Regions from separate parts of the Homo sapiens genome. Here all the other regions are linked to region 1. Evidence: fine-mapped expression QTL. A gene starts in region 1. Each other region holds a variant in brackets. All regions are shown on one strand. Distances are from middle to middle. Region 1 holds the start of TNPO2 (transportin 2). Region 2 holds the start of WDR83OS (WD repeat domain 83 opposite strand). Region 3 overlaps TNPO2 (transportin 2). Region 4 overlaps BEST2 (bestrophin 2).

The links.
Region 2: its variant is fine-mapped to the expression of TNPO2 in whole blood (INTERVAL, PIP 0.98).
Region 3: its variant is fine-mapped to the expression of TNPO2 in whole blood (INTERVAL, PIP 0.99).
Region 4: its variant is fine-mapped to the expression of TNPO2 in whole blood (INTERVAL, PIP 0.95).

Annotation. Positions count from the first base shown.
Region 1 is chr19:12,721,529-12,726,750 of GRCh38, forward strand. TNPO2 (transportin 2) reads right to left here and starts at 2,404. Exons shown (of 26, transcript NM_001382241.1): 1 at 2,241-2,404; 2 at 1,721-1,837. RefSeq lists enhancers at 319-937, 938-1,555, 1,354-1,503, 1,556-2,174, 2,175-2,791 and a silencer at 764-853.
Region 2 is chr19:12,669,097-12,674,209 of GRCh38, forward strand. It overlaps WDR83 (WD repeat domain 83), which reads left to right. Exons shown (of 11, transcript NM_001099737.3): 3 at 659-797; 4 at 881-1,001; 5 at 1,084-1,189; 6 at 1,467-1,515; 7 at 1,599-1,725; 8 at 3,751-3,818; 9 at 3,912-4,020; 10 at 4,106-4,220. The coding sequence starts at 695. WDR83OS (WD repeat domain 83 opposite strand) reads right to left here and starts at 319. Exons shown (of 4, transcript NM_016145.4): 1 at 258-319; 2 at 32-137. The coding sequence starts at 307. It also overlaps a transcript of DHPS not described here. RefSeq lists enhancers at 788-877, 1,018-1,107, 1,267-1,940 and a cis regulatory region at 2,815-3,395. The variant A/G (reference allele first, on the strand shown) is at 2,508.
Region 3 is chr19:12,698,106-12,703,327 of GRCh38, forward strand. It overlaps TNPO2 (transportin 2), which reads right to left. Exons shown (of 26, transcript NM_001382241.1): 21 at 4,718-4,813; 22 at 3,967-4,072; 23 at 3,647-3,746; 24 at 3,493-3,567; 25 at 3,221-3,348; 26 at 1,096-3,138. The coding sequence ends at 3,241. Among named protein-coding and RNA genes, the nearest start is that of SNORD135, 3.0 kb to the right of the region's middle. RefSeq lists enhancers at 3,033-4,232, 3,510-4,119, 4,730-5,222. The variant T/C (reference allele first, on the strand shown) is at 2,460.
Region 4 is chr19:12,758,261-12,763,260 of GRCh38, forward strand. It overlaps BEST2 (bestrophin 2), which reads left to right. Exons shown (of 10, transcript NM_017682.3): 10 at 1-198. HOOK2 (hook microtubule tethering protein 2) reads right to left here. Exons shown (of 23, transcript NM_013312.3): 23 at 4,743-5,000. Among named protein-coding and RNA genes, the nearest start is that of BEST2, 9.0 kb to the left of the region's middle. The variant C/T (reference allele first, on the strand shown) is at 2,723.

The DNA.
Region 1 (5,222 bases):
ATGCGCCCTCCCAAGACGATCGTCCTGATCTCTCCTGTCCCCTGTTCCTGCCCTTCAAGCTCAGTGGATGCCAGATATCCCCCTCTGTGGCCTAGCCAAATTCTAAGGATTCCCCTTAATCAGGCCCAAAGCAGTCCCCAGGTAGGTCTCTGCTGCCTCTTCGAATGAGAGCCAGCCAAGCCCGGCCAACCCACTATAGGAGCCCCCTGGACCGATCCCAGTCGCCTTCCCCAATCAGGTCTGGCCAAGCCTCTCCCTGAAATTCCCTCCGACCCTGTCAGCAGTAACCCCTGCTGACGGATCTCTGTTGCCTCTCCCAGTCAAGTTCGGCCGAGCCCCCCACCACCTCGTGTCAGTAACCCCCTGGTCCGATCCTTGCAGCCTCCCCCAGTTCGGCCTGGGTAAACACCCCCCGGGGCATTCCCCTCAACGGATCCCAGCAACGCCTCGAAGTCAGATCCAAGAAAACCCTCTAGGCCGAAGTCTGACGCCCCTCCCTGTCAGGACCCAACGAGCTCCCCTCCCCCCACCCCGCTCAACTTTTCAGTGCGGCCTCCCCCAATCAGACCCAACCAAGCCCCACCGAAACAGGCCCCTACACACACCCGATCCTCGCGACGTCCCCCAATCAGGCCCCAAGCAGTCCCCAGACGCTTCCCCCAATCAGATCCCCTCCAGCCCGACCCCAGCAGTCCCACTGGCCCTCTTCTTGAGGAGCCCCGACATGGCCTGGCTCCGAGGCCCCACCCCCTAAGCTCTGCTCGGTTCCCCCCTCCCCCGCCCGGCCCGTTCTAGCTGCCAGGAGGATCGGGCCCAACCGGCTTCCCGGCCTTTCCCGGTCGGGCGCGGCCCCGACGCCCGGGCCGCGCGCGGCGCAGGCTCGGTGCCCGGCGGGGGTCGACGCAAGCCGGGGCCAAGAGGGTCGGGCTCTGAGTGAGGCCCACTTACCCGGCCCCGGGCAGCAGCGGCGGCAACTCGCGCTGCGGCTTCTCCAGAGACTCGCGCGGAAGGAGGGAGCCAAAGAGAGAGAATTAAAAAAAAAAAAAAAAAAAAAAAAGAAAGAAAGAAAAAAAAAAAAGAAAAACGCGGCCGTAGGTGAGCCGCCGCGGCTCCCGTACTCCGTTCAAACTGGTCCCGCCGAGCCAATCGGAAGGTTCAACCTTCACACGTGCCCTGGCACTTGGGAAACCCGGGCTGAGACAAGGTCCGGTCACGTGACCAAAGAGTTGCCGTTTCTTTGGCCTCTCTAGCCAGCCGGTCCTCCCAGTGTCTCGTTTTCCCAGCATCTTTCACTGACCTGACCGCAAGCTCTTTAGCTGGAGCCAGGAGTTTGGTAGCGCGTGGGGACTTTGTGTGTGATGGATCCAGGAACCCCTCGGCCAGAGCCAGCACCCTCCTTGTCACCTTCCTCCACTAAAAATTGAAATGTGCCTCCCTTCCCCCATCCAGAGGTACTTGGGAGGAGTACGCTGTGTGTGCGCAAGGAAAGAGCTGAGCGTGCTCTTTATACCCCAGAGACAAAGGAAAGAAAGCAGGACAAAGTAAGTGCCTGAGACAAGCCGGGTTCCTACAGAAGCCTCTGCCACTTTTTGCATTATTTTCCAGTACTGTTTGATAGTTTTTACAAGGAGATGAAAAAGCCACAAGGATATAAATTTTTGAATAAAACGAAATGAACTAATAAAATAAACTTTGAACCACGCCTAATCCCTTTCCCTACCTGAAGTTGAATGAGGTGGAACAGCGCAGGAAATTCTGGCAAGGGCAGGGTCATGAAGAAAGAAATCTTCTTGATCCTTGCGACGTCTGAAGACAGTAGGGCACCGTTTTTCCTTCTCTTGAGAGAGGAGCAGATGGTAAAAAGCTGGAGACCCTGTAGCGTCTTGGTTTCCCCTCCCTGCCCTGCCGATAACAAAGTGGGAGACCTCCTGCCACTTGAAGCCTCAGTTTCCCCACTTGTCAAATGGGTATAAGAGCAGTTCGCGCGATTAGAGATCATCCAAGTTAAGCATGACCTGGCCAGCTCTGAATTGTTCCTTAAAAACGTGGCTTTACCCTCCAAGGCTCAAGGCTGTTCTTTTACTGTATTCAGCCCCTCCCTAAGCCGATATTTAATGAATTCACCAGCTCTAATCCCAAAGAACAACCCACCCTGCCCTGAGGAACTTTTTGACCCTCGAGAGAGGCAGAGGTCAATTTTTGCCCCTGCCTGAAGGAGGGGAACAGCTATCTCAACCCACTTGCCGTAGGCAAAGTCAGTCCCGGCTCCGTTCATTCATGAAAATCAAGTCCCGGGCCTCCAAGGTTAGGGAAGTGTCGGCAGGCGCCTAACTCCACTCGGAGAATCGCGGAAGACACCCTAAAGGAGCAGTTGGGATTCCGAGGTAGCCAGTTCCGCTGGACTGAAACCTGGGCTGAGAAACACGTGCAGAAAGCCGCCACCAAGGCATGCGTAAAGGCCTCCCTCTCCCCCACCCTCCGATAAGCCCTGGAACTACAAATCCCGTCCTGCCATGCGCCAGGGTCGCCGCGCTTTGGGGTTTTGGCTGAGACTCAAATTGGCAGGAGGGTCTCTAGACCAACCGAGGTGCATGGGGAGCAGAAGAGTGAGACTGGGGAGCTGGGGCTGGATTTGGGGGTTCCTGGAGCGAGTGTGAACGATAAGAGCTTTCTGGTCAAATTTGGGGGCTGCCCCAGATAAAGATCAGATGGGGAGCGAGTTTGGGATGCAGGAGACAATTTGTTAAGGTTCACCCCCTTCATATAATATGGCAAATTTTCAGCGGCCCTCCGCAAGCCTTGGGGCAGAACAAAGTAGCCCCTGCTGCATGTGTGGTCCACATTGTTGGCCCTTGTGTGGTCACGGAATTTTTTCTTCCTCTCCAGCTGGTGAATTTGAGTGTTGAATCAGGACAAGGTTTTGGGTTTTTGTTGTTTTGTTGTTTTTGTTTTTCTATTTCTTTGTTTTGTTTTGTTTTGTTTTTGAGACGGAGTCTCGCTCTGTTACAAGGCTGAAGTGCAGTGGCGCGATCTCAGCTCATTGTAACCTCCGCCTCCCGGGTTCAAGCGATTCTCCTGCCTCAGCCTCCCGAGTAGCTGGGATTACAGGCATGCGCCACCACGCCCGGCTAATTTTTTTTAATAGAGATGGGGTTTCACAATGTTGACCAGGATGGTCTTGATTTCTTGACCTCATGATCTGCCTGCCTTGGCCTCCCAAAGTGTTGGGATTACAGGCGTGAGCCACCGCGCCTGGCTTTTTTTGTTTTTTTGTTTTTTGAGATGGTGTCTTGCTCTCATTGTCCCGGCTGAAGTGCAATGGCTCAATCTCGGCTCACTGCAACCTCCGCCCCCGGATTCAAGCGATTCTCCTGCCTCAGCCTTCCGAGTAGCTGGAATTACAGGCGCCTGCCACCACGCCAGGCTAATTTTTTGCATTTTTAATAGAGATGGGGTTTTGCCATGTTGGCCAGGCTGGTCTTGAACTCCTGACCTCAGGTGATCCACCTGCCTCGACCTCCCAAAGTGCTGGGATTACTGTGCCCGGCCCAGTTTTCCTATTTCTTTCTTTCTTTCTTTTTTTTTTTTTTTTTTTTTTTTTTTTTTTTTTTTTGAGACACTGTCTTGCCCTGTCGCCCAGGCTGGAGTGCAATGGTGGGATCTCAGCTCATTGCAACCTCCGCCTCCGGGATTCAAGCTATTCTGCCTCAGCCTCCCGAGTACCTGGGACTACAGGCACCCGCCACCACACCCAGCTAATTTTTGTATTTTTAGTAGAAACAGGGTTTCACCATATTGGCGAGGCTGATCTTGAACTCCTGACCTTGTGATCTGCCCGCCTTGGCCTCCCAAAAAGTGCTGGGATTACAGGTGTGAGCCACCGTGCCTGGCCTTTTTTCCTTTTTTTTTTTTTTTTTTATTTTGAGGTGGAGTTTTGCTCTTGTTGCCCAGGCTGGAGTGCAATGGTGCAATTTCGGCTCACCACAACCTCTGCCTCCCGGGTTCAAGTGATTCTCCTGCCTCAGCCTCGCGAGTAGCTGGGATTACAGGCATGTGCTACCACGCCCTGCTAATTTTGTATTTTTAGTAGAGACCGGGTTTCTCCATGTTGGTCAGGCTGGTCTCGAATTCCCGACCTCAGGTGATCCACCTGCCTTGGCCTCCCCAAGTGCTGGTATTACAGGCATGAGCCACCATGCCTGGCCTTTTTTCCTATTTCTTAAGCACCTACTGCATGTCAAGTGGTTTCCAAATGTTATCTCATTAATACCGGATGTGGTGGCTCATGCCTGTAATCTCAGCACTTTGGGAGGCCGAGGGCAGATCACGAGGTCAGGAGATTGAGACCATCTTCTGGCTAACACAGTGAAACCCTGTCTCTACTAAAAATACAAAAAAATTAGCCAGGAGTGGTGGCCTGCGCTTATAATCCCAGCTACTCAGGAGGCTGAGGCAGGAGAATCGCTTGAACACGGGAGGCGGAGGTTGCAGTGAGCCAAGATCACACCACTTCACTCCAGCCTGGGCGACAGAGCGAGACTCTGTCTCAAAAAAAAAAAAAAAAAAAAAAAAGGCCAAATGTTATCTCATGCAAATCTCACAACAGCCCTATGCCTGGCAAACTTACCCTAGTTCAATTAGAAGCTCTCTGTGCCAAAAGAAACTCACAGAATTGGTGTCCAACCAGCCGGGCGCGGTGGCTCACGTTCATGCCTGTAATCCCAGCATTTTGGGAGGCCGAGGCGGGCAGATCACAAGGTCAGGAGATCAAGACCATCCTGGCTAACACGGTGAAACCCTGTCTCTACTAAAAATACAAAAAAAAATAGCCAGGCGTGGTGGCGACCGCCTGTAGTCCCAGCTACTCGGAAGGCTGAGGCAGGAGAATGGCGTGAACCCAGGAGGCGCAGCTTGCAGTGAGCCAAGATCGCGCCACTGCACTCCAGCCTAGGCGACAGAGCGAGACTCTGTCTCAAAAAAAAAAAAAAAAGAATTGGTGTCCAACCGCGAATCTGAAATGTGAGACAAACGTGTTCTCAATTTACAGCAGCCTCCCTTCCCAAGCCTCTCATCACACTGTCCCCCGAGTTCAAAGGTCAGCACTTCAACTAACTTAACACAGTCCCCAAACGCAAGCCAACTTCTTCACCCTGGAAAGCACTAGCTGTTTTAAACAATGGCAGGGTTAGATTCTATGAATATTGCCCTTACTTTAGAACTTG
Region 2 (5,113 bases), 52 kb before region 1:
ACTACACCCATAGAAGCTCAACCCCGCCCACCTTAAGCATGAGGCCGCACATGCTGAAGATCATGCCCAGCAGGTTCATGTAGTCCGGCGTCGGGTCGTCCAAGGCCGGGTTACATTCGCTCGGCGGGGGCTTGTACCTGCGACAGGCTCGAGGGTCAGGGGCGCTCAGGTCCTGCCCCCGGGATAGACAGGCGCTTCCCAGGGCCCCGATCCACACCCACAACCCGAACCCGTGCCCACGACGCTGGGGTCCTCACCTCAGCACTTTGTTCGGCCTCCGTGGGTCCGACATATTGTTAGTGGACATAGCGAGTCGAAGGCCAGATCACGCCTCTTCCGCTGCAGGAATCGCAGCTTCCGGCGTGCAAGCTGAGGGCGGATTTTAGAGTAACACCCGAGGCCCTCGCATTTCCGTTCCTCATGACAGAGGCTTGGACTCCCCTTACCCAGAGAACGGAGATTTAGGAGAAGCCAGAAGTCTTCCTTTCAAAGGGAAAATGGGGAAAAGAACCTGAAAGCGGGCTTCAATAGTTCCAACCCGATCACCGAAATGCCAAAATGATGAACCCGGAAGTGATAAACAGGAAGTAGGTCAGGAAGAACAATAATAAGGTTACACCCAAGCGTGGGTTTCTAAGGCGCGGAATTTTCCGTACAGACCGATTTAAGGCTGCAAGGAAGGAGTCCTGGGAGCATGGCTTTCCCTGAGCCAAAGCCGCGGCCTCCAGAGCTGCCGCAGAAACGGTTGAAGACGCTGGACTGCGGGCAGGGGGCAGTGCGAGCCGTACGATTTAATGGTGAGCGCCTTCGTCTTCATTCCGGGTCCTCCTCCCGCCTCCTGAGATCGACGGCCCAGTAACCCCCGCCTGGTGTTCCCCAGTGGATGGCAATTACTGCCTGACGTGCGGCAGTGACAAGACGCTGAAGCTGTGGAACCCGCTTCGGGGGACGCTGCTGCGGACGTACAGCGGCCACGGCTACGAGGTGCTGGATGCGGCCGGGTGAGCCGGGGACCAGGCTGGGATGGGAGCGCTGAGGCTGGGATCCGAGGTCGATGCTGATCCTCCTCCTCCTTTACTCCAGCTCCTTTGACAACAGTAGTCTCTGCTCCGGCGGCGGGGACAAGGCGGTGGTTCTGTGGGATGTGGCATCAGGGCAGGTCGTGCGCAAATTCCGGGGCCACGCAGGGGTGAGTGAAAGCCTGGAGACCCTCATTTGAGTGGAGGGGACCCGTATTAGCGCATAGGTGGTGACACGGCCACCCCCATTACACCGTAAGGATCCCTTCCCCAGATGACGATCCCCCACTCCGCATGCCAGGCTAGGCAGTCACCAACCCCTGTCCTTGCTGTTCCCCCAAAACCTTTCACCTCCCCTTCGCCCTTGCTTTAACCGACACTGGGAACCCTGCCTTTATCCCAGTCCTCCAAAGTCCAGCCTCCTCTGAGTGGCAATAACTTTCTCAGAAGGTGAACACGGTGCAGTTTAATGAAGAGGCCACAGTTATCCTGTCCGGTGAGTCTGGGGCCTAAGCACGGGGGCCCAGGGTGCTGCCCTCCCCCTCCAAACCTGACCTCACCATCATGCTGGCCTCACAGGCTCTATTGATTCCAGTATCCGCTGTTGGGATTGCCGCTCACGGAGGCCTGAGCCAGTGCAGACGCTGGATGAGGCCAGAGATGGCGTGTCCAGTGTGAAGGTGTCAGACCACGAGATCCTGGCAGGGTGAGTGGAGCCAGGACCTGGTCTCACCCCAGGTGCTACGGGGAATCATAGCTGCCCCCATGCTCAGATTAAAACCTACTCTCAGCTGGGCACAGTGGCACACAGCTGTAATCCCAGCTACTTGGGAGGCTGAAGTGGAAGGATCACTTGAGTCCAAGAGTTCGAGGCACCATTGCACTCCATGCTGGGTGAAAGACAGACTGTCTACAAAATAATAATAATCTGGCCGGGCACGGTGGCTCACACCTGTAATCCCAGCACTTTGGGAGGCCAAGGTGGGCAGATCACTTGAGGTCAGGAGGTTGAGATCAGCCTGGCCAACATGGTGAAACCCCGTCTCTACTAAAAATGCAAAAATTAGCCAGGTGTGGTGACGGGAGCCTGTAATCCCAGCCACTCGGGAGGCGGAGGCAGGAGAATCGCCTGAACCCGGGAGTTGGAGGTTGCAGTGAGCCGAGATTGTGCCACTGCACTCCAGCCTGGGCGACAAAGTGAGACTCCATCTCAAAAAAAAAAAGATAAAATGATTTCTAAAAATAAATAAAAATAGGCCGGGCGCTGTGGCTCATGCCTGTAATCCCAGCACTTTGGGAGGCAGAGGCAGGCGGATCATGAGGTCAGGAGATCGAGATCATTCTGGCTAACACGGTGAAACCCCGTCTCTACTAAAAATACAAAAAATTAGCCGGGCATAGTGGCAGGCGCCTGTAGTCCCAGCTACTCAGGAGGCTGAGGCAGGAGAATGGAGTGAACCCAGGAGGCAGAGCTTGCTGTGAGCCGAC[A/G]TCGCACCACTACACTCCTGGGCGATAGAGCAAGACTCCGTCTCAAAATAAGTAAATAAATTAAATAAATAAATACATAAAAATAATCATAAGGAAGAATTTTTGTTTTTTTTGAGACGCAGTCTCGCTCTGTTGCCAGGCTGGAGTGCAGTGACGTGATCTCGGCTCACTGCAACCTCTAACTTCTAGGTTCAGGCGATTCTCCTGCCTCAGCCTCCCTAGTAGCTGGGACTACAGTCGCGTGCCACCACGCCCAGCTAATTTTTGTATTTTTAGTAGAGACGGGGTTTCGCCATGTTGGCCAGGAGGGTCTCCATCTCTTGACCTCGTGATCCACCTGCCCTGGCCTCCCAAAGAGCTGGAATCACAGGCGTGAGCCACCGCGCCTGGTGGAAAAAATATATTTTCTATTCATTAAGTGGAAGTGAAGAGATCGTCATAAAGATCTTCGTGTTGAGAAAGCAGAGGAGGAGGAAGAGGAGGGATTGATCTTGGTGTCTCACAGCTGATAGAGGCAGAAGAAAATCCACATATAAGTGGACGCGTTCAGTTCAAACCGTGTTGTTCATGGGTCAACTGTACTTTGAAAAGTGCTCCCTCTGGTGGCTGTGGGGGGTGCAGGGAGACCAGAACAGTCTAGATGCTGGTGCTGGGTAGTGGGGAAAGTGGTGGGACTGAGTACTGAGGAGGAGGAGCTGGAGAATGCAGGAAAAGGGGGAATTGGGCCAGGTGGGGTGGCTCACACCTGTAATCCCAGCACTTTGGGAGGCTGAGGTGGGCGGATCACCTGAGGTTGGGAGTTCGAGACCAGCCTGACCAACATGGAGAAACCCCGTCTCTACTAAAAATACAAAATTAGCAGGGCGTGGTGGTGCATGCCTGTATTCCCATCTACTCGGGAGGCTGAGGAAGGAGAATCTCTTGAACCCGGGAGGCAGAGGTTCCGGTGAGCCAAGATCATGCCATTGCACTCCAGCCTGAGCAACAAGAGCAAAACTCTGTCTCAAACAAAAGGAAGAAAAGGGGGAATCAGAAGGACTCCAAGGGCTTGGAAAGGGGGTGTGGGTCTTGGAAATGATGGAGTAGGACGTAATTGGCCCTGGGCCTGAGTCTCAAGGCCAGAGCTTCAGAATTCCACTCCTGTGCACTGGAAGAGCAGGCCCACTGGGCTGGGAAGGCACAGGGCTGCCTGGAGCCATGTGAGTGTAGTCAAGGTTCCCGCTGGATCTACCCTCTCCTGCAGCTCCGTGGATGGCCGCGTGAGACGCTATGACCTAAGGATGGGGCAGCTCTTCTCAGACTACGTGGGCAGTGAGTGTGGCTGGGGATGTGGGACAGGCAGGGAAGATGGGGGGCCAACCAGGGGCACCCCACCCTCACTCACCTACCCACCCTTCCCCCAAGGCCCCATCACCTGCACCTGCTTCAGCCGGGATGGGCAGTGCACCCTGGTGTCCAGCCTGGACTCCACATTGCGGCTCCTGGACAAAGACACAGGGGAGCTGCTGGGCGAGTGAGTCCTTGTGGTCGTGGGGATCCCCTTCCCTCCTCTCCCACCCCTGGAGAGGACCAAGCCCCCCGATCCTGTCCACCCTTAGGTACAAGGGCCATAAGAACCAGGAATACAAGCTGGACTGCTGCCTGAGCGAGCGTGACACACATGTGGTCAGCTGTTCTGAGGACGGGAAGGTGTTCTTCTGGGACCTGGTGGAGGTGAGGTGCCCCCAGCCCTACTTCATACCTAGATGCCTGCCCCATCTCAGCCCTGTCCTTACCTCAGTCACTCCAGGGCCTGAAGGCTAGGATCTTTTTTTTTTTTTTTTTTTTTTTTTTGAGACAAGTCTTGCTCTGTCGCCCAGGCTAGAGTGCAGTGGCGCAATCTTGGCTCACTGTAAACTCCGCCTCCCAAGTTCAAGCGATTCTCCTGCCTCAGTCTCCTGAGTAGTTGGGATTATAGGTGCGTGCCACCACACCCAGCTAATTTTTGTATTTTTAGTAGAGACAGGGTTTCACTATGTTGGTCAGGCTGGTCTTAAACTCCTGACCTCATGATCCACCCACCTCAGCCTTCCCAAGTGCTAGGATTACAGGCGTAAGCCACCACACCCGGCCCTTTTTTCTTTTTTTGAGACTATTGCCCAGGCAAATGCAGTGGCGCCATCTCAGCTCACTGCAACCTCTTCCCCCCAGGGTTCAGGTGATTCTCATGTCTCAGCCTCCTGAGTAGCTGGGATTACAGGCCCCTACCACCATACCTGGCTAATTTTTGTATTTTTAGTAGAGACAGGGTTTCACCATGTTGGCCAGGCTGGTCTCAAACTCCTGACCTCAAGTGATTCACCCGCCTCGGCCTCCCAAAGTGCTGGGATTACAGGCCTGAGACACCGTGCCCAGCTTGGGCTAGAGAGAAGATGAGGCAGGAAGGGCATTCCAGGCAAAGGGAACAGCATATGTTAAGAGGTGTAGCCTGCGCATGCATCAGTCAGGAAACAAAGGCTTCAGGGTGGCGGCAGGTGCGGCAAGATCCGGGGTCAGGCTGGGCTGCAGATGCCAGGCCGAGCAACTGGCACTGACCCCTGGGCAAGGGGGAGCCGACGGCCATGTCT
Region 3 (5,222 bases), 23 kb before region 1:
GCAACAAGAGCAAAACTCCGTCTCAAACAAAAAAACTGCAGGTATTTACTGCAAGCCTCTTTTGAGCCAGGCAGCTAACCAATCCACGTAGGTCATCTGCGCAGTCCTTGCTGTTTGCTCTACTTGACACTCTTCTCTCCATGGCTCTGTTCAAACATCGTCTTCTCAGTGTGGCCTTTGCAGGTCACCCTACATAAGATTTCAACCGTTTCCCCCACCATTCTCTCTGCCTTCCTGTTTTTCTCTATAGGACTTAGCACAGTTCCACTTTTTATACTCTATCCTCTCACTAGAATGCAGGACTTATTTGTTGAATATTGGATGTGTGTCAGTATTTTTAAATTTTCCCACGTTGGTCTTTGGGCCACACCAAGGTTGCAGTAAGATTTTATTTTGGCTGGGGGCGGTGGCCCACACCTGTAATCCCAGCACTTTGGGAGGCTAAAGTAGGTGGATTGCTTGAGCCCAGGAGTTCAAGACCAGCCTCAGCAACATAGCGAAAACCCCCTCTACAAAAAATACAAAAATTAGCCAGCATGGTGGCATGCACCTGTAGTCCCAGCTACTTGGGTGGCTGAGGTGGGAGGACTGGTTGAGCCAGGGAGGTTGAGGTTGCACTGAGCCATGATTGCGCCACTGCACTCCAGCCTGGGTGACGGAGCAAGACCCGGTCTCAAAAAAAAGAAAGATTTTATTCTGAAGATTGTGGTTTCCCCCCACAGCTGAAACTACTTCTCATTTGCCTGAGTAATTGTAACTAATATTAATTAAATTACCCTCGGCCTGGGGCTGGGCTGAACCTTCTATGAAAACCTTGACCCAGGGTCAGCTGATGATAAGAGTGCGGCAAGGCCTCACCCCTTACCACTCAGTTTAGAGTACGGCAGAGGGGCATCTTGAACCTGGGCTGTGACACTAATGGCTCACCCTTAGTGAGCTGAAGTCCCAGAGAATGAGCTGCACATTTCATATATGTTACAAATTTAATCTTCCATCTTTCACATTCGTCTATCTTCCCACTCTCAAGTATCCCCGGTGCCCCCGACATTTCTTCACTACCAAAGCCAAGGACACAGGAAGCCACAGACTAAGGAGTTCACAAGAAACTGATCTTTACTCAACAAAGTTCTACACAAGTGGAATCTCACGCCACCTCGGCGCCAATCCCCAGCACAGCACAGTAACAAATGGACAGACCCGGGAGCCCGCAGGGGGAAGAGGGTGAGGAGGGAAAGAGGGACTGTGGCTCAAGGCCAGTCTGGGTCCACAGCCCTGGGTAGGGGAGAAGGTTGAGAAGCTGAAACTTCATTGTGCAAAAAACAACCAAAAATAAATTAAAAAATTAAATAGTTTTTTTTTAAAAAAAAAAAAAAAAAGGAAAACGAGAAGAACCAGGCTCCCCTTCCCTGAAGGTGTTTGTATCCCCCCATCTTGAGTAGCGAGGGGTTACCAATCCCATCAGACAGCCAATCCATCCACACACCCCAAGACCCAGCAGAGGATGCTTCAAAGAACTGGAATTACCAGAAAATTAAAAGGTATTTTTAAAACTTTTTTTTTTTTTTTTAACAAATGGCTTCCAGAGACCTGCTCGAGTTTCATGGGGTGGGCGTGCAGGGACACCCAGCTAATTTATGGAATGTGTACTGAGTGCCCCTTGGAATAGATGCAGGGCCTGACCCTGACTATGGAAAGACACAGGGCTTGGATGGAGGGTCTGGCGCCCAGGAGGGATGGATGGAGCAGGCCCCAGGATGCGAGACTCCAGTCAGACTCCAAAACACAAGGGGCTCCCCAAAGAAGTAGAAAGCAGGGAAGGAAAAAAAGGGAAAAAATGCTAAGGGGGTCTGCAAGGCCCAGTTTTCTGGCCAACTGGGAAGTAACTACACCCCCACCCTCTCTAGGGGAGCCCCTTCCACCTTGACCATGTTCCCAGACTATTCCGGAAGGTTCTCTAGAATTGCTGACCCAGTCTAGTAGGATCTCTGGGCTCACTGGGTACTATGATGAGCAGGAAGTCCCAGGGAGATGGAATAGGGAACAGGGGACACACCACCTTTCCCTTCCACCAAGCCTTGGTTTTCCTTTTTGCTGGCAAAAACCTGTGTCCTCTGTCATCATCAATTAAACGCCCCTGCCCCAGGCCTTGAGTTAAAACTGGGGCCTGAAACGTGAGAAGGGGGTTTCAGAAGCACAGAGAAACGGACTGCCCCTGAAGCTGCTTACAGAGAGAGATGCTCGGGGTAGGTGCCAGTAGCTCTGGCTACACCCAGCTCTCTTCAGGAAAAAGGTCCCAACCCAGTGTCTTCAAAAGCCACTGGAGCACACAGGAAGGAGAAACGGTGACCTCTGGCCAGCCCCAGCCACTCCAGTGGTTCTCACCCTGCGAGCTAGGCTAGGATAAGGACGGAGACACCACCAGCTGAGGCTGCAACAAAGCTGGCAGGGAGTGTGTGGAG[T/C]GGGTCCCAAGCATGTGCGTGCTGACAGGGCGACTCCCAAGGTCACCATCCTCCTCCCCCCGCCCCGAGATCCCGCCTGAGGCCCCCCACCCACCCAGCCCTCCCCAGTCACCGCCAATTCCGGCAAAACAGCAGAAGCTTCTTAAACTCTAGATGCAGGTTACACGGAAGGCCTTACGGGTTAACTCAGGGGTTCACTAATTCTACTGTCTCCATGCAGTCGGGGAAATGGTGGAGCGGCTGGCCCAGCCTCGCCGGTTATGGCACCCGCACATGCGTGTGGCCATGTGTGTCCGTGTGAGTGTACGCGTCCCTACGAGGGCCCCCCTCCTGACCTGCTCCTCCCTCACCTCATCCGAAGCCGGATTCGGTCAGCTGTGTAATTCCTCCCTCCCACGTAGCTGGCCCAAGTGGGCTGCCAGAGATGACCCTATTAGAGCCCAGGGGCCCTTGCCCACCAGAAGTCCCCCCCACCTCCCCGTTTGTAGGATGAGCATGGTGGCCCCACCCACCTGCCAGGAGGGCAAGTGGACGGATGGACGGACGGACGGACGGACGGGGAAGGCATCTGGATTTGAGTCCCACTCACTCCTCCCTAACCCCCCTCAACCAGGGCACAGCGACTTCCGGATGCAGCGCACTCCCCAGTAATCCCTCCGACGACGACGCAGACAGAAACCTGCAGGGGGAGGAGGAAGGTCATGGCCTGGGACCTTTCGGCCCCCAAGACAGTGCTGACTTGCCAGCTGCAGTCTCCTTACCTGGCAGTCTCCATGATCACCTAGACCCCATAGAAAGCCGCCAGCCTCTCCTTGAGCAGCGGCGGGAATTGCTCAGAGAACTGCTGCCAGTTATCTTCCCCAACTTGGTCTTTGAAGCCGTGGAGAATCTGTGGGGAGGGTGGTGGTGAGGGGTAGGCAGGGGCAGAACAAGGGGAGTGCGCCTCTTCCCCCATCCCCAGGCCCCATTGTTACCAGATGGTCTCACCCCTGCCTGCTCCCGGAACTAGATCAGGGCCCAGACAGAGCCTCACCTTATAAAACATGTCCCGAAGGTCATCCTTCGGGCTCACCCAGGAGGCTACAGCATCGCAGAAGAAAATAAAGTCCTGAAACGTGACGGATCCCAGGTGAGGGGCCGCCCGAGCCCAGCGCCCGCGCCTGCCCTCAGAGCCCAGCTGCCCCAACCTGCACAACGCCCCCCGGGTTGACACCGATCATCATGCAGATGCCGCGGAAGGCTGAGTCCTTCTCCTCGTTGTCCCTGATGTTCCTGAGGGACGTGCACCTGTGGGAAGGTGAGCAGCTGGAGGTCAGAGGGCAGGCTGGGCATGCATCTGTGGAGGGCTGGGTCACTGGGGATCAGTGAGTGGGCCTGGGACATGCATCTGTGGGGGTGGGGCAGGGCAGGGAGTCAGTAGGCAGATGGGGCTGGAAATGCACAGGCGAGGGAGGGGGTTGGGCCAGTCCCGCCCACCACACAGCAGGCTTGACACGTGGACACACACCAAGGCCGGATGAACTGCTGCAGCATGGGTGCCACCTCCTGGGGGCACACGTAGCCCAAGCGGCCGATGGTGATGGCTGGAATGGCAGAGGGACTCGTCAGGCGACCTGCAACCCCGAGCGGCCCCGGGACGGTACGTGGCGGGGCCTCTGGCACAAGGCACCAAGCCCCGCCCCATGAGCCCCAAGGGAATGGCTACTGCAGCCACCCTGGTCCCCCAAGCTTGGCCCAGCCAGGGGTCCTCCTCATCACACCTGAGTCACTTCCCAGGTCTCTCTGCATCTATCTTTCTTTCTTTCCTTTCCCTTTCCTTTTTGTTTTTTTTTGTTTTGTTTTGTTTTTGAGATGGAGTCTTGCTCTGTTGCCCAGGCTGGAGTGCAGTGGCATGATCTTGGCTCATTGCAACCTGCCTCAGCCTCCCGAGTAGCTGGGATTGCAGGCACGTGCCATTACCCCCGGCTAATTTTTGTATTTTTTAGTAGAGATGGGGTTTCACCATGTTGGCCAGGCTGGTCTCGAACTCCTGACTTCAGGTGATCTGCCTCCCAAAGTGCTGAGATTACAGGCATGAGCCACTGCACCCAGCCTGAGGCTGCATCTTTCTTGGGGCTTCTCCCAGTGACCCCTTCCAGGTACTTCCAGACACCCTCCTTGGTTCCTTGACAAGGCTCTTTCTGATGCCCTTCCCAGCCCAGAACCCCACCTCCAGAAGGCAGGCAGGGGTGCAGGCAGCAGCCGGGCCAGGTGCCCACCTGTGTTTTCCAGCAGTGTCTTGGGTGTGTTGGGTCGGTTAATGATTTCCACCAGGTTGTTGAGGACCATCTGCACATAAGGCTGCATCTCTGCCCCTGGGGGAGCACCCAGTCAGAGCCCTGCACAGCCCCCGCCACCCACAGGGGCCAGGGGGCCGCCCCACCTCACTCACTACTCGCCCCAGTTCCAACTAGAGACTGGCCAACCACTACCAGTGAGGAAACAAAAGACCTTCTCCGGCTAATCCCCACCCAGAATCCCTGGCCAACCAGGGACAGACCCACACCCTCCAAACAACAGAGGCTTCTCTGGAGTCGCTAAGGTGACAACACGCTGCCCAAGTCAAAGGAAAAAAAAAGCCAAAGTCACCCAACCAATCCGAATGAGTCTTTTAGCCAACTACACAAAACGGTCCAATCAGAACAGCCCTCCTATCCCTCCTCTTTAGAGAAGCCAATCACAAATGACCTTTCTGCTTGGCTCCACCCCTGACGACCCCCAAGA
Region 4 (5,000 bases), 37 kb after region 1:
CAGCCCGCCCTGACCACCAGCTCTACTTCCCAACCCCCACTGCCTGAGAGGTCTCTATCAGTGTCCTGCCTGAATTCTTTCCTTCAAGTGAAGATGTGACTGACTACCTCCTCGAGTTGTCATGAGGATGAAAGAATGGCATTAAAGCATTTGGTATACAGTAGGTGCTCAATAAATTGCTAGTGATTTTTACTCAAACGTTGTTAGTCTGATTTCTCCTGCCAGACATTATCCATTGTCCTAAGTAAAATTTGGGAGTTCTTGCAGGTTCTTTTTTTTTTTTTTTTTTTTGAGACGGAGTCTCTCTCTGTTGCCCAGCCTGGAGTGCAATGGTGTGATTTCTGCTCACTGCAACCTCTGCCTCCCAGGCCCAAGCAATTCTCCTGCCTTAGCCTCCCAAGTATCTGGGATTACAGGCACGCACCACCACACCCAGCTAACTTTTTTTAATTTTTAGTAGAGAGGGGGGTTTCACCATGTTGGCCAGGCTGGTTTCGAACTCTTGACTTCAGGTGATCCACCCACCTCTGCCCCCCAGAGTGCTGGGATTACAGGCGTGAGCCACCAAGCCCTGCTGCAGGTTTCTTCTTTCTTCTTCTTCCTTCTCCTCCTTCTCGTCTTCCTCCTCCTCCACCACAACCACCAGGCCCAGCTTATTCTAGGTTTTTTTTTTTCCTTTGAGACAGAGTCTCACTTCATCACCCAGGCTGGAGTGCAGTGCCACGATCTTGGGTCACTGCAACCTCCACCTCCCTGGTTCAAGGGATTCTTGTGCCTCAGTCCCCCAAGTAACTGGAATTACAGGTGCGCACCACCACACCTGGCTAATTTTTTGTATTTTTAGTAGAGACGGGGTTTCACCTCTTCCAGGTTTTATGATGGTGCCCTGCTTAATTCTTCCCAAACTCTGCTGTCTGAAACACCCACATCAGTGCCCTGGCATTACTCATTAATGAGCCAGCCACTGTCCCAGGATCATGGGTTCTTCTTGCCTCAAGCCTCTGCATTCTCAGGCCCTCAGGGCTTCAGGTTTTACTAATTTAATATCACACGGACTCCTGATGACTCCTGAATATAAAAGTCCAGCCAAGGCAGTGAGCTCTGGTCATGCCACTGCACTCCAGCCTGGGCAACACAGTGAGACCCTGTCTCAAAAAAAAAAAAAAAAAGAGGCCTGGTGCTGCAGTGGGGCTCACACCTGTAATCCCAGCTGGGAGGTGGAGATGGGTGGATCATTTGAGGTCAGGAGCTGGAGACAGGCCTGGCCAACATGGTGAAAGCCCGTCTCTACTAAAAATACAAAAATTAGCCAGGCGAGGTGGTGGGCACCTATAATCTCAGCTACTCAGAGGTTGAAGCAGGAGAATCGCTTGAACCTGAGAGATGGAGGTTGCAGTGAGATTGTGCCACTGCACTCAAGCCTGGGTGGCAACAGAGTGAGACCCCATCTGAAAAAGAAAAAGGAAGAAAAAGAAATCCAGCCAGGATCCCTTCTCTAACTGTAGACCCAGAAAGCCAACTGCCTCTTGGATGCCTCCTTGCAGAGATGTCACAGACACTTCAAACATAACACACTTGAAATCCAGCTCCTAATCAGCCCCCCAATCTGCCCCACCCTGTGTGTTAGCTTTGTCCTTCCAGGTGATAAGGCCAAAAGAAGTCATGTGGATTCCTATTCCCGCCACAGGCCATCACATCAACCCAGTGGCCACACCAACCCAGCAGCAAATCTTATCAGCTTTGCCTTTATTTTTATTTTATTTATTTATTTGTTTTTGAGACGGAGTTTCGCTCTTGTTGCCCAGGCTGGAGCGCAATGGCGCGATCTCGGCTCACTGCAACCTCCACCTCCCAGGTTCAAGCAATTCTCCTGCCTCAGCCTCCCGAGTAGCTGAGATTACAGGCATGCACCACTACGCCCGGCTAATTTTGTATTTTTAGTAGAGACGGGGTTTCTCCATGTTGGGGCTGGTCTCGAACTCCTGACCTCAGGTGATCCGCCCGCCTCAGCCTCCCAAAGTGCTGGGATTACAGGCGTGAGCCACCGCGCCCGGCCGAGATTTGCCTTTATTTTTATTTTATTTTTGAGACGGAATTTAACTCTTGTCACCAGGCTGGATTGCAATGGCATGATCTTGGCTCACTGCAACCTTCGCCTCCCGGGTTCAAGTGATTCTCCTGCCTCAGCCTCCCAGGTAGCTTGGATTACAGGCGCCCACTACACCCAGCTAATTTTTGTATTTTTAGTAGAGACAGGGTTTCACCATGTTGGCCAGCCAAAGTGCTGGGATCACAGGCGTGAGCCACCGTGCCCTGCCAGCTTTGCCTTTAAATCGTATCTAGAATCCAACCATTTCTCACTCCTCCAGGACCCCAGCCTGGCCAGAGCCCTCACTATCACCCACCCACCCACCTGGACTACCAACCAGGTCTTCAAGCTCTGGCCCTGGCCTCCTAAGCCTGTTTCTCCCAGAGTGGCCACCAGAGGGCGCCTATGAACACCCGAGCCAGGTCACATCCCTCCTTTGCTTAGACTCTTCCGTGGCTCCCACAGCACTTAGAATAAAAGTTAAAGTATTCTCTGCAGCCCACAAGTCCCTGAATAATCTCCCCACCCTCATCTGCTTTCTTTTTCTTTTTCTTTTTTTTTGAGACAGAGTCTCGCTGTATCGCCCAGGCTGGAGTGCCAGTGGAGCCATCTCGGCTCACTGCAAGCAAGCTC[C/T]GCCTCCCGGGTTCACGCCATTCTCCTGCCTCAGCCTCCCGAGTAGCTGGGACCACAGGCACCCGCCACCACGCCTGGCTAATTTTTTTGTATTTTTATTTTTATTTATTATTATTATTTTTTTGAGACGGAGTTTTGCTCTTGTTGCCCAGGCTGGAGTGCAATGGCATGATCTCAGCTCACCACAACCTCCGCCTCCCAGATTCATGCGATTCTTGTGCCTCAGCCTCCAGAGTGACTGGGATTACAGGCGTATGCCACCACATCCGGCTAATTTTGTATTTTTTTTTTAGTAGAGACGGCGTTTCTCCATGTTGGTCAGGCTGGTCTCAAACTTCTGACCTCACGTGATCCGCCCGTCTCAGCCTCCCAAAGTGCTGTGATTACAGGCGTGAGCCACTGTGCCCGGCCGCATTTTTTTGTATTTTTAGTAGTGACGGGTTTCACCGTGTTAGCCAGGATGGTCTCGATCTCCTGACCTCGTGATCTGCCTGCCTCTGCCTCCCAAACTGCTGTGATTACAGGCGTGAGCCACTGCACCCGGCCTTCTGCTTTCCTTTTATTTTTTGAGATGGAGTCTTGCTCTATCGCCCAGGCTGGAGTGCAGTGACACAATCTCGGCTCGCTGCAACCTCCGCCTCCCGGGTTCATTCTCCTGCCTCAGCCTCCCGAGTAGCTGGGACTACAGGCACCTGCCACCACGCCCGGCTAATTTTTTTGTATTTTTAGTAGAGACAGGGTTTCACCATGTTAGCCAGGATGGTCTCAATCTCCTGACCTTGTGATCCGCCAGCCTCAGCCTCCTAAAGTGCTGGGATTACAGGCATGAGCGTGAGCCACCACGCCCGGCCTTCTGCTTTCTTATTCACTCCACTCCAGCCACTCTGGTCCCCTTACTGTCCCTCCAGCACACCAAGCGAGGTGTCATCTCAGGGCCTTTGTGCAAACTGTTCTGCCTGGATCTTCCCCAGGTACTTACATGGCCTCTCCCTCACCTCCTTCAGGTATCTGCTTCAATAATGTCACTTCCTTGGTGAGGCCTCCTTTCTGGGCCTTTTTATTCTTTTTTTTTTTCGATGGGGTCTCACTCTTGTTGCCCAGGCTGCAGCAAGCTATGATTGTTCCACAGTGGTGGCTCACTCTGGTAACTCTGGGCACCAAGGTGAGGGAGATAAAGTGGGCCAGGGTTTAGCCCACTGCTTTTAAGAAAAGCTTAGTGGCCAGGCGTGGTGGCTCACTCCTGTAACCCCAGCACTTTAGGAGGCTGAGGTGGGCGGATCATCTGAGGTCAGGAGTTCAAGAACACCCTGGCCAACATGGTGAAACCCCGTCTCTACTAACAATGCAAAAATTAGCCAGTCGTGGTGGCATGCGCAGGTGGTCCCAGCTACTCAGGAGGCTGAAGCAGGAAAATCCCTTGAACCCAGGAGGCAGAGGCTGCAGTGAGCCAAGATCGTGCCACTGCACTCCAGCCTGGGCGACAGAGTGAGACTCCATCTCAAAAAAAAAAAAAAAAAAAAGCAACAACAACCAAAAAACAAAACCACCACACATTCACAGACACACAAACGTGATCCTCACCTACCTCTGGTTGGTGCTATTGGTCACTCACATTTTAGTAAGAATGCAAGCCAAGCTTTTCTTTCTTTTTCTTTTTGAGATGGAGTCTTGCTCTGTTGTCCAGGCTGGAGTGCAATGGCATGATCTCAGCTCACTACAACCTCTGTTTCCCAGGTTCAAGCGATTCTCCCACCTCAGCCTCCCGAGTAGCTGGGATTACAGGCATGTACCACCATGCCCTGCTAATTTTTGTATTTTTAGTAGAGGAGGGGTTTTGCCATGTTGGCCAGGCTGGTCTCAAACTCCTGACCTCAGGTGATCCACCCGCCTCAGCCTCCCAAAGTGCTGGGGTTACAGGCGTGAGCCACCGTACCTGGCCGCTAAGCTTTTCTTAAAAGCAATGGGCTAAGCCTCTGGCCCACTTTCTCTCCCTCACCTTGGTGCCCAGAGCACAGCCAGGGCAGATTGAACGCCTTTATTTTTCTCAAATATAAAATCAGAGTCTCCTGAGGCAGCACATGAACTCCAGAGAGAGAATCAACAACAAGAATCACATTGCTAAAAAGAACAGGCCTATATCTACCTCCCGCCCTCCCTCCCCACCAATCTGGGAGAGGGAAGAGCAGAGATCATGGCCTCAAAGCTCTCGAGCACCTGGCTGAAGCCCAGTGCTGGGCGCCATGTGAGCTGGAGGAAGCCAGGGTGGGTGGAGCCCAGG